Homo sapiens: one gene and its partner. The protein of the gene in region 1 purifies or fractionates together with the protein of each later gene. This does not show direct contact. Each region holds a gene or a part of one and is shown in the gene's direction. Other genes may lie near its edges.

What was found. Proteins that work in one complex are often made in the same cells at the same time.
Region 2: the proteins of COL10A1 (region 1) and C1QL4 purify together in Homo sapiens (co-immunoprecipitation; 3 studies listed by BioGRID and IntAct, with this or other methods). This does not show direct contact.

What each region holds. Positions count from the first base shown.
Region 1 is NC_000006.12:116,118,361-116,123,190, reverse strand, and holds the end of COL10A1 (collagen alpha-1(X) chain precursor), read left to right. Parts: intron 1-1,229; coding exon 1,230-3,118; 3' UTR 3,119-4,282; downstream 4,283-4,830.
Region 2 is NC_000012.12:49,334,189-49,342,021, reverse strand, and holds the start of C1QL4 (complement C1q-like protein 4 precursor), read left to right. Parts: upstream 1-4,833; 5' UTR 4,834-5,544; coding exon 5,545-6,081; intron 6,082-7,833. UniProt on the Homo sapiens protein: May regulate the number of excitatory synapses that are formed on hippocampus neurons. Has no effect on inhibitory synapses. May inhibit adipocyte differentiation at an early stage of the process.

The sequences.
Region 1 (4,830 bases):
AAAACAGATTTCCAATCAGACTAAGACAATTATTTTTAGTGTGAACATGACCCTTATAATCAGATTCTAAAGCAAAGCTCAATCTAACATAGTTGGCATTTTAAAAAATCCACTATTTTATTCCTCCAACCCATTAAAAAATTCCTTATTTATTCCTCTATTTGCAATATATCAATATCCACTTATACATAATATAATCATGTATGTACACTACAATCAATGAAATATTTAATATACGGAAATCTTTTACATAAATTTTTCTCACAGTCTTTTTCCTGATGTCATTTTCTGAAAATCCATGGGGAAAGCTCTATGTATTTATATTAATCAATGTTTTCAAATTGAAATATAACTCTAATTAGTAAAAAAAAATCTAAATCTGAAACAATTATTTTCCTATTTCGGCATATCTATTTTAATGATTCGCTCTGCATTTATATACACCAAATGTTTTCCAAATCTCAGAAACATCTGTACCCTGTGCTTTCCCCATACTTGTGGCCCAGCCGCATTTTTCACATCACAGGCACTATGATTTTTAGTTTAAGTTTAGTTTATCAGGTCAAGTGAACTCACAGCTCTATGAAATCAAACACTATATATTTGTATTTAGGTAAGAACTTTAATACTATTTTATGTACCTCACCTATTATGTCTAATTCTCTAGTTCTTTGTTTCAATTTTAAGTCAATAATGGAGAGTATAAGAGCTCAGAGTATATTCTGAGGTAAAAGTAAATCAACCAAAATCTAACCTGTGTTCAGCAGAGGCATGGCAGATGTAAATCAGAATTAATTCTGTTTCTCTTTTATGTCTGACAGGGTAGCTTTGGGAGGGAAAATTTTTATAGTTCTTAAACATTTTCTCACTTATTCTGCACTGTCTTTTTCTGCCTTTTCTGTACATGATTTTCCCAAAATAAATGTACTAAATTTACCTCCACTGCACTTATTCTAGAGGAATTCTTCAATCCTAGCTCATTTTCATGAATCACTGTCATGGGATAAAAGTATTATGGTAGCCATGGTTTTGTGAAACCATCTTCTCCAGCAGAATTTTTTAAAACAGTATAAAACATATAATCTAAAACCATTTCAGACTGTTCTGTCTACATGGAATAAATGATGCTGAAATATCGTGTCCCAATTCATAGTTTGAAAGGCAATGATTCTCTTTAATGTCACTAACCATCCCCTTCTATGGGTGGGTGTGTTGGGTGTGTCTTTTAGGTATAGCAGTAAGAGGAGAGCAAGGTACTCCTGGTCCACCAGGCCCTGCTGGACCTCGAGGGCACCCAGGTCCTTCTGGACCACCAGGAAAACCAGGCTACGGAAGTCCTGGACTCCAAGGAGAGCCAGGGTTGCCAGGACCACCGGGACCATCAGCTGTAGGGAAACCAGGTGTGCCAGGACTCCCAGGAAAACCAGGAGAGAGAGGACCATATGGACCAAAAGGAGATGTTGGACCAGCTGGCCTACCAGGACCCCGGGGCCCACCAGGACCACCTGGAATCCCTGGACCGGCTGGAATTTCTGTGCCAGGAAAACCTGGACAACAGGGACCCACAGGAGCCCCAGGACCCAGGGGCTTTCCTGGAGAAAAGGGTGCACCAGGAGTCCCTGGTATGAATGGACAGAAAGGGGAAATGGGATATGGTGCTCCTGGTCGTCCAGGTGAGAGGGGTCTTCCAGGCCCTCAGGGTCCCACAGGACCATCTGGCCCTCCTGGAGTGGGAAAAAGAGGTGAAAATGGGGTTCCAGGACAGCCAGGCATCAAAGGTGATAGAGGTTTTCCGGGAGAAATGGGACCAATTGGCCCACCAGGTCCCCAAGGCCCTCCTGGGGAACGAGGGCCAGAAGGCATTGGAAAGCCAGGAGCTGCTGGAGCCCCAGGCCAGCCAGGGATTCCAGGAACAAAAGGTCTCCCTGGGGCTCCAGGAATAGCTGGGCCCCCAGGGCCTCCTGGCTTTGGGAAACCAGGCTTGCCAGGCCTGAAGGGAGAAAGAGGACCTGCTGGCCTTCCTGGGGGTCCAGGTGCCAAAGGGGAACAAGGGCCAGCAGGTCTTCCTGGGAAGCCAGGTCTGACTGGACCCCCTGGGAATATGGGACCCCAAGGACCAAAAGGCATCCCGGGTAGCCATGGTCTCCCAGGCCCTAAAGGTGAGACAGGGCCAGCTGGGCCTGCAGGATACCCTGGGGCTAAGGGTGAAAGGGGTTCCCCTGGGTCAGATGGAAAACCAGGGTACCCAGGAAAACCAGGTCTCGATGGTCCTAAGGGTAACCCAGGGTTACCAGGTCCAAAAGGTGATCCTGGAGTTGGAGGACCTCCTGGTCTCCCAGGCCCTGTGGGCCCAGCAGGAGCAAAGGGAATGCCCGGACACAATGGAGAGGCTGGCCCAAGAGGTGCCCCTGGAATACCAGGTACTAGAGGCCCTATTGGGCCACCAGGCATTCCAGGATTCCCTGGGTCTAAAGGGGATCCAGGAAGTCCCGGTCCTCCTGGCCCAGCTGGCATAGCAACTAAGGGCCTCAATGGACCCACCGGGCCACCAGGGCCTCCAGGTCCAAGAGGCCACTCTGGAGAGCCTGGTCTTCCAGGGCCCCCTGGGCCTCCAGGCCCACCAGGTCAAGCAGTCATGCCTGAGGGTTTTATAAAGGCAGGCCAAAGGCCCAGTCTTTCTGGGACCCCTCTTGTTAGTGCCAACCAGGGGGTAACAGGAATGCCTGTGTCTGCTTTTACTGTTATTCTCTCCAAAGCTTACCCAGCAATAGGAACTCCCATACCATTTGATAAAATTTTGTATAACAGGCAACAGCATTATGACCCAAGGACTGGAATCTTTACTTGTCAGATACCAGGAATATACTATTTTTCATACCACGTGCATGTGAAAGGGACTCATGTTTGGGTAGGCCTGTATAAGAATGGCACCCCTGTAATGTACACCTATGATGAATACACCAAAGGCTACCTGGATCAGGCTTCAGGGAGTGCCATCATCGATCTCACAGAAAATGACCAGGTGTGGCTCCAGCTTCCCAATGCCGAGTCAAATGGCCTATACTCCTCTGAGTATGTCCACTCCTCTTTCTCAGGATTCCTAGTGGCTCCAATGTGAGTACACACAGAGCTAATCTAAATCTTGTGCTAGAAAAAGCATTCTCTAACTCTACCCCACCCTACAAAATGCATATGGAGGTAGGCTGAAAAGAATGTAATTTTTATTTTCTGAAATACAGATTTGAGCTATCAGACCAACAAACCTTCCCCCTGAAAAGTGAGCAGCAACGTAAAAACGTATGTGAAGCCTCTCTTGAATTTCTAGTTAGCAATCTTAAGGCTCTTTAAGGTTTTCTCCAATATTAAAAAATATCACCAAAGAAGTCCTGCTATGTTAAAAACAAACAACAAAAAACAAACAACAAAAAAAAAATTAAAAAAAAAAACAGAAATAGAGCTCTAAGTTATGTGAAATTTGATTTGAGAAACTCGGCATTTCCTTTTTAAAAAAGCCTGTTTCTAACTATGAATATGAGAACTTCTAGGAAACATCCAGGAGGTATCATATAACTTTGTAGAACTTAAATACTTGAATATTCAAATTTAAAAGACACTGTATCCCCTAAAATATTTCTGATGGTGCACTACTCTGAGGCCTGTATGGCCCCTTTCATCAATATCTATTCAAATATACAGGTGCATATATACTTGTTAAAGCTCTTATATAAAAAAGCCCCAAAATATTGAAGTTCATCTGAAATGCAAGGTGCTTTCATCAATGAACCTTTTCAAACTTTTCTATGATTGCAGAGAAGCTTTTTATATACCCAGCATAACTTGGAAACAGGTATCTGACCTATTCTTATTTAGTTAACACAAGTGTGATTAATTTGATTTCTTTAATTCCTTATTGAATCTTATGTGATATGATTTTCTGGATTTACAGAACATTAGCACATGTACCTTGTGCCTCCCATTCAAGTGAAGTTATAATTTACACTGAGGGTTTCAAAATTCGACTAGAAGTGGAGATATATTATTTATTTATGCACTGTACTGTATTTTTATATTGCTGTTTAAAACTTTTAAGCTGTGCCTCACTTATTAAAGCACAAAATGTTTTACCTACTCCTTATTTACGACGCAATAAAATAACATCAATAGATTTTTAGGCTGAATTAATTTGAAAGCAGCAATTTGCTGTTCTCAACCATTCTTTCAAGGCTTTTCATTGTTCAAAGTTAATAAAAAAGTAGGACAATAAAGTGATGGGTGGCTTTTACAGTTGTCATGGATATGTCCCTATATTGGTGATGCATCTTTATTCCCACAGACCCAACCACTCATTGTTGACTGTGAAGAGGTACCCACAAAACCACATGCAATCTGAGTCAGGGTCAAGGGCTGATGACTAGGGATAGAAAAATGACAAAATCACCCCAAAGTTGTAATTTTCTCCTGGGAGGGAAAGAAGCAGGTGACAGAGAAATATGCAGTTTGAACAAATATTCTGCAGTTACTATTTATTGTCTTGACATGTTTTTGGTTATAATATTTAAAATTGTTTTGATGGCTTGAATTACATTTTAAAAAGGCAAGCAATTTTTTTGTCAATCACAAGGCAACATTTTTTCCAAGCTGAAAAATACTACTCTTAAGAATCCATCATCCTATTAGTTTAATCAGGACAATGTGGCTCAAGTCACTGAGGTAACATACTATAAAGGCATCTATTTATTCCTTAGAAGCAATCTTGTGTAATCCAAGCAAAGCTGTGATTGGAAAGGTAAAACTCTGGGCTCAAGATTGGTGATATCTCTGCCCTCACTC
Region 2 (7,833 bases), on another chromosome or scaffold:
TCACTGAAGTCCAGCCCGCCTGGGGTGCTAGTTCGGGGTCCAGGTCCGGGTGCGGTGGGTTGGGGCTCGTTAAGTGTCCTGCTCGTCAGAGAAAAGCTGGGGACCCCAAGCAGAAAGAGCATCCTAGGGCCTTCCTCGCTTAGCCGAGCCCTCGAGACTTGGAGCTTAGCACTACCTCCTGGTCTCGGGGCTCTCATCAGTATGCGCCCCTACCTCAACTTCCCGCACCCCACCCGCCTCCTTTCACCTGTGGGTCTCCCAGACCCGGAGTCAATATCCCAGAGGAGAAATGAGGGGTCTGACAGCTCTCTGTGCAGCCGATCCCCACATTTCATTAACTGGAGGCTGGAGCTGGCAAGCGGTGGAGGCAGAGGGGGGCACAAAGGGAGGTGGAGGAGTCAAAGGCTAGGAGCAGCACCTGGCCAGGGGTGGAGGGCTGCCGAAGTAAGTCAGCAACAGCTCTGACCTGGCAGACACCTTGGAAGCAGTCTTTACCCACTCTCTGAGAAGCCAGGAGCTTGTCTTCAGCCCTGTGGACCCTGGTGCGATACTTTGAACTTAAGGTTGCACTGAGTTTTGGTGCCAGAGGCACTGGCTGATGAGTGGGAGCCCTGGGCCTGGCCGTGATGGCAGAGGCAGGAGGGTAGTCTCTGCAAGGAGGCAAACCATGAGCAGGTTCTTGGGCTGGGACGGTTTTCCCAGCTGCAGTCGGAGAACAGCCGGCTTCAGGCTTCCCTTTTGTCCCTTAAGCAAATTTTCCTTGACTCGCTTCGTTTTCCTTTGCCTTCCTTTTTCTCTGCCCTCTCTTCCTCCATCTGGACGGTTGTTCTCTGAAACTAACTTTGGCCATCCTTTAGCCAACAGTTGAGCACCTGTTGGGCATCATGCTTAACAGTGTCAGGGTGGGGGTTGGGGGATACACGGAGCCAAGACCCAACCCTTTTGGCCTCACATACAAAAGGCTCCCGGAAGCCATTCAAATCTCACTGCCCACTCCTGGCCTGCCTCTCTCACTCTTCCACTGCCTTGGGTGCCATTTGTCTCCTCTAGGGAACTGAGAAGGAAGCCAGGAGGTCATAACTCTAATTCCAGGACTATCCCTTACAGGGTGATAATGGACAAGCCATTTCCCCTTTCTGGGCCCCAGTTTTTTTATCTTTAAAATGGGGACAATAGATCTAACTCTAAAGGGTGCTGTGAGGATGCAACGAGAAGTTGCATGTTAAAGCCCTAAAATACAATAAGGACTCAATAATGTTGTTTCCCTTTCCATGCCGTCCCCTGTCCTCTCACGTGGATTCCCTTGTCTTCATACTAGAGGACTGCTACCAGGCAACCCAGGCTGCTTCCAGATCCATGTGATCTTCAATGTGGGAGTTGAAAGCCAGAGTGTGGGAATGAGTAGGGAGAACCACACTGTGACGGGCCCTGAAGGGGAGGAAGGAGAGAGTGCAAGGAAAAAAAAAAAAGTGTTTCCTTAGATCTTGATAAAATGTCAGGCAGCGAGGAGGTTTCTCTTCTCTTACTGATGAGGAAACTGAGGCACGTTCAAGTGATGCAGGCATATCATGCTGCTGGAGCCTTCCCTCCCAAGGGCCCTCTATTGCTCACCTCTTCACCCCCTTTCTTCCCTTGAGGGGGTCTGGGTCAGTGACAGTAAGTGTGAGAGAAGGAACAAAAAGAGAGAACTTTCAAGGAGCCAGGACCTTTCCACTAGACTTCATAAAATTTTAACATGAAAACTTCCACAGAGTAGAAGGCACATATCACATGCAAATCATATGCTAATCACATGCTAATCCAAAGTCTGGTCCTCAGAACTCTGACACACACCTAGCTATAGCCCTGGGGGGGATTCTGGGGATCCCCCTGGGTTCCAGGACAGGTGAGGGAGGCATTCCATTTAGGGTCAGTTTATGGAGTTAAAATTCATTTTAGGATTGAAGAGGAGTCGAGTATATAAATAGGGGTTAGGGTCAAGGCTAATGCAGAGTCAAGGACAGACTGGTCTGTCTGAAGGCTGCATTAACCTTTAAGTGGGGGAGCCTAGGAAACTGTTAAAGGCTTCCTCTCCTCTCCGCTCCCCCTGCCAACTCTGCCCCCCACTTCCACTGCCCCTTCTTTGTCCTGCAGCACACCCTTCTCTACCTACTTCCCATTCCCAACCATACCACCTCCCTGGGGCTTCCCAGTTTGGCTGCCAGAGGAGTTCTGGGAAAATTGTCCCAGACCCTGGCCTGGGCCCCAGCATTGCCTCGAGCCCAGACACTTGGCTTCTGGCCCAAGGTGCACAGGCTGGCCTTGGCCCCACCCAGGTCCCTTCTTGGCAGAATGTGGCAGCTGCAGGGGAAGCAATAAGGACCTGGTGAGCTGGCAGCTTCATTCCAGAGTGTGGGAAAAGAGCAACAGAACATGAATAAATTCATGGAGCTGGCCCCTCAGCTCCCCGTGAGCCAAGCCGGCTCCCCCGACCACACAGATCCGCTGCTGCCTGCAGCCCTGCTGGTCACCACATCTCACAGCCTGGGCTGGGGATGGGAGGAGAGGGGAAGCTCTAGAGAGAAGAGGACTGGGACCTGAAAGGGGCTGAGGTGAGGGACTTAAAAAGGGGACCTTGGTGAGTAGAATGAGTGGAGTGAGGAGTGTGGCTGGGCAGAGGGGGTCTCTGGTGAGTGGAGGGAGGGAAAAGGGAGGGAGAGGAGTCAGGACCTGGGGTGGATGGGGCCTGAGGATCAGGCAGGGGAGGCTGGTGTGAGCCTGGGCCTGCTCTCTGATCCATCCATCATCCAGCCTGGGGGAGCAGATCCGGAATTAGACATGCAGAGGGCTGACACGGCCCTCAGCCCCCCGAGGAAGACAAATGGCGACAAAGACCTTGAATAAAATTTGTATTTATGGTTGGAGGAGGAGGCCCCTCCCCCACTGACTGCCAATCCTTTCTCTCCCACTCCTTGCAGACATGTAGGGGCCTCCCCCAACCCCCAACACAGGCCCAGCCTTAGGAACCTCTCTCTCCCAGCATCATTATGAGGCGGGGGTCGGGGGTGCAAGGAAGGAGTACAGAAAACAAGAGAGGAGGAAATCACTCTCCATCCAATAATCATGCCCTGGTGTGCCCTGTGCCCTCCATCTTACACAATGTTCTCCCATACATGATAGTCCTGGCTTATCCTGGTCTCTAAGAGGCCTTTGCAGCTGCTCACCTCCAGGGTCTCCAAATGCCCCCACTTTTTACCAGTCCTAGAACCTGTTTTCCTAGCCTCTGGGGTCCCTGTGAGCAAGACATTTTCCCCAGAAGGCCCAGGCCCTAAGAGAGGATGCAGCCAGTAGCTTTTTCTCTGGACTCTGATCTAGCAATGCCTGTGTCTAGCAATGTCTTGGCCGCTCGGAAAGACAGATACAGTCCCCTCTTACAGGAGGGTGCCTAGCACCTAATCTGCATTTTACTTACATTAATTTGCATGGCCAACTTCAACCCCCACCCAAATACCCATTATGTGGGATCCAACTTCTCTGGGTTTCATCTAACAACAAACTCTTGAAGAAGGAGGAAGGGGCAGAGACTCCTGGGACTGGATAAGTCTGGGACCAGGGCAGGGGTGGCATTGGGCTGAGCTGGGCAGGGCAAATGAGAAGACAGCTGTCTTCTGACTTCCTCTCTGTCCAGTAGAGTCCTTCATTCTCAGTCCCAAGGTAGGAAAAATGGCATTTGTGGGCTCCAAATTGAGGGACTAGGAGGAAGACAAATACAAATACCTCCCTTCAAACAGCCCTCACATATACATACACAAAGACAACACACAATCCACAATCGCACTCACCCAGGGACACACAGGGCCAGGATCCCATGGCCACCTCCACACTTTGGAGCACACTGTCACAATGCACAGGCCCAGAGCCTAGCACTGCTGGCAGAGCCGCCCTGCCCCCGCATCTTCCCCACAGTTGATATGTCACATTGGAGTCCAAACACGGACCTGGGTGTCTCTCTGCAGCGCGCCATTTACATTTCTCTCTCGATCTGTCAACCTGTCCCGGCTCTGTCTCTCTTCCTCTGTCTCTGTCTCTCCCTCTCCCCCTCTGGGGCTGTCAGTCCGTCTCTTTTCGAAGCTTTGTCTCTGTCTCTGCATCTCTATCTAGCTTTCCTTCTCTTTGATTTCTGTCGCTCCTTCTCTGCTTTCTTGTCGGTTTCTTGCTTGCTCCCCCGGGCTGATCTGTTCTCTTATTTTCTCTCTCTCTCTCTCTCTCTCTCTCTCTCCACACAAACACACACACACACACACACACACACACACACACACACACTCCGCTCCGCGCCCCAATACTGAGGGGTGGGGGTAGGGTTGGCTAGAGATTTGCCTTTTCCAGTTCAGGCCAACTAGTATCAGTTGAATCCTTTACCATGTTATTCGGTCACGGGCGCTGAGGTGCGTGGGGTGGTGAATTTCTATCTTTTCTAGCCCTTCTTATTTTGTTTTCTGTTTGTTTGTGAGGTCCCTCCCCCTCATTTTAGCTCGGGAATCTACCCCTGTCTTCTCTGCGTGTTTGTATCTTGACCCCTCTTTATCCCATCGCTGTTTTGGGTTTCCTCTGGCCTCTGAGAATGCCAAACTCCGGGTAAAGGGTAAAAGTAAAGATACAGCGGGGGCCGCGAAACCCTGAAGAACCCGCTCAGAGCCGGGAAGGAACCTAGGGGCAGTGGGGGAGTGGAGGGGAGGCGGGGAGGACGTGGGTGGGGGCCGCTGCCTGCCCCGCCCCCGCACTTCCCACTCTGGGCACCAGGGGTCGCTCCGCCTCTGGCCGCTTATAGTGGCTCCCGCCGCGCGGCGCCTCATACCACCCGCGCCCGGGAGGGAGGGGAGGAAGGTTAGGGAGGCGGAGAGGGACCGCGCCCGCAGGAGAGAGGCGCGGGCCAGGGCTCTAGCAGGGACTGGGGCCGCGGCAGGGGTAGCAAGGTGAGTCGGTGCTTGCCAAGAGGCAGAGCGCAAAACCTACTAGGAGATCGCGCCCGGTGAGCAGCACCCGCAGCTCAGAGCCCGGGACGTCCGGAGCGCGGGGAGCAGTCCCCTCTCCATCAGGGAGTGGTCTATCTGGGCAGTCTGGGACCCAGGCACCGCGCCATCCCTGAGAGAGCAGCAGTCTGGAGAGCAGGCATCTCAGATCCCTAAGAAACCAGCCGTCCGAGAAGCCGCGGATCTCAGGTGCCCAGGATCGTTAGGACTGAACGGGAGGGTACTAGAGGACCACTGGCTCTGGACCGTCGGGAGCTGCCCCTGACGTAACCCACGAGGGGCCTCCCCTTGACGGACGGCTTGGGGAGCGGCACCGCCGCGGCTGGAGCCCGCAGAGGCAGGGTAAGGGGAGCGGGGGGCAGCCGTCGGGGGAGTGCAGACCCAGGCCCAAGGCGGGTCACCGCCTCCTGGCCCGCGGAGAGCCCCGGCCCCGGCAGCCATTGCGCCCAAGAGTGAGGAAGATTTGCTGGCCCTGGCAGCGTCGCGGCTGAGCCGCCGCAAGAGGGTGGCGGGCGCGGCCGTCGGAGTGGCCATGGTGCTGCTGCTGCTGGTGGCCATCCCGCTGCTGGTGCACAGCTCCCGCGGGCCAGCGCACTACGAGATGCTGGGTCGCTGCCGCATGGTGTGCGACCCGCATGGGCCCCGTGGCCCTGGTCCCGACGGCGCGCCTGCTTCCGTGCCCCCCTTCCCGCCAGGCGCCAAGGGAGAGGTGGGCCGGCGCGGGAAAGCAGGCCTGCGGGGGCCCCCTGGACCACCAGGTCCAAGAGGGCCCCCAGGAGAACCCGGCAGGCCAGGCCCCCCGGGCCCTCCCGGTCCAGGTCCGGGCGGGGTGGCGCCCGCTGCCGGCTACGTGCCTCGCATTGCTTTCTACGCGGGCCTGCGGCGGCCCCACGAGGGTTACGAGGTGCTGCGCTTCGACGACGTGGTGACCAACGTGGGCAACGCCTACGAGGCAGCCAGCGGCAAGTTTACTTGCCCCATGCCAGGCGTCTACTTCTTCGCTTACCACGTGCTCATGCGCGGCGGCGACGGCACCAGCATGTGGGCCGACCTCATGAAGAACGGACAGGTGAGATGCCCCTCTCCCCAACCCAGCTCAGACTGGTCGCTCTCTAGATCTCCCTGCACTCATCCCACAACCTGAGATTATTCCCCGAAACAGCGTCACTGAATCCAGGAACGCGAGGCTGCCAAGAACGATAGATGACTTCATTTACCCACAGAGGAAATTGGGGGCCAGAGAAGGAAAACCTTCTGCCTAGGGCCTCACGGAGTGTAGGAATGGTGTTAGAATTAGAACTCAGGACTTAAACCTGAGTGTCTCTGCAGCTGTGACCTCACATTGCAACTATGGGCAACACCAGATGTCTTTGGTGTCTCGCCCTGCCAACTCGCTTCTTTTCTCGTCCTGTCTTGGGCTATCCTTTCTTCTGCGGCAGCCCCCCTGGCCTTTGGGTCTCTCAGCCTTGCATTGGACCAGCTAACTGGAGTCTAGGCTCCTTCGAATTAGAATGGAATCCATGTCTCAGGCAATAGGAAGTCAGCAGCTGTTCTCATGTTGAGGGCATTCGGGTTGGATGTTTGAGGAAAAGGTATAAAAGGAAGAAAACATTTGCCTGCTCACTTCACCTGCCGATCAGCTGTTCTGTTGCTCACCCCAGGGCTGGGGGCCTAGAACGGCCTTGCCCTCAGCAGAGTCTGTGGCTTGGCAGCTCAAGGGCCAGCCAGGTGGCTGGAATGAATGGATTTGGGGGAGGAAAGAGGCAAGGGACAGGTAGAATAGCCTTGGGCCCTGGCCTGGTCTTGTAGGCCCCACACCCTCCCTAGCAATCTCTCAGTATCCAGGTTCCACAGTTCCCTGCCCTTGTGGGCAGTTGGAGTCACTGTTGCCTCTGTTTTCGGGGAATAGCCCCAAGGACTAAGCTCTAGCACCAAAATTTCACACATAGTGGGAACTAGAGGCCGCAGGTGTGGGGTAGGTGGGAGAAGGTGCCAGAGCTGCACAGGCTGCAGAGGGAGGTTGGGGCTGAGTGGTGACCTCTGGATGTCCAGCATGAAGGGGGTGGTGGCGACCCAGGAGCTTCAGGCCTGCAGGAGCCTGGTACCGCGGCAGCATCTACCTGCCCCGAGACCTGCTTTGGGATCTCATCCCAGCCGGGCTGCCCCAGGAACCCGGGGAAAGGGAGTGAGTGTGCGTCCTCATGGAGTGAAAGAATATGTATGTGTGTCAGGGAGTGTGTGTGAGTGCGGAGTGCGATGTGAGAGTAGAGCGGTGTCTATCTGTATATGACATCGAGTAGGTGTGCTTGGTCCATGCAGGGTATCTGGGAGGAGGTGGAGGGGGCCAGTGTGTAACTAATTCGTGCGGGTTTCAGAGGGGGAGGGGACTGCGCAGCTCCCACTCTGTATTCTTCAGTGCGGGCGCTGCGGCCCTGGGGACGGTAAATAGTGATTAGAATAATGATGAATAATTAATGAGTTAATAACCAGCCCCTGTGGGACTCTCTAGAAGAGGGGGGCTGAAGGCCCGAAGCGACCGCCATGAGCCCGGAGGGGAGGAAGTGCTCCCTGTTCTGGCAGAAGACGACCCCCCACGCCTGGGCACCAGTGGGTGCTTGGTCGGGAAATCCGCGCCCACAGGCGAGAGCGCAACAGTGCACCTTATCATGGCCCGCACCCTATGCACACGCACAGGCACACCTATGCCCCACCACTGGGGAAGCCAACCCTCCATGAGGACTGACAGGAGGTCCCAGCCGGTTCAGAATTTTAGAAATTATCCTATAGGCAAAATTTTATTTTATTTTATTTATTTTTTGAG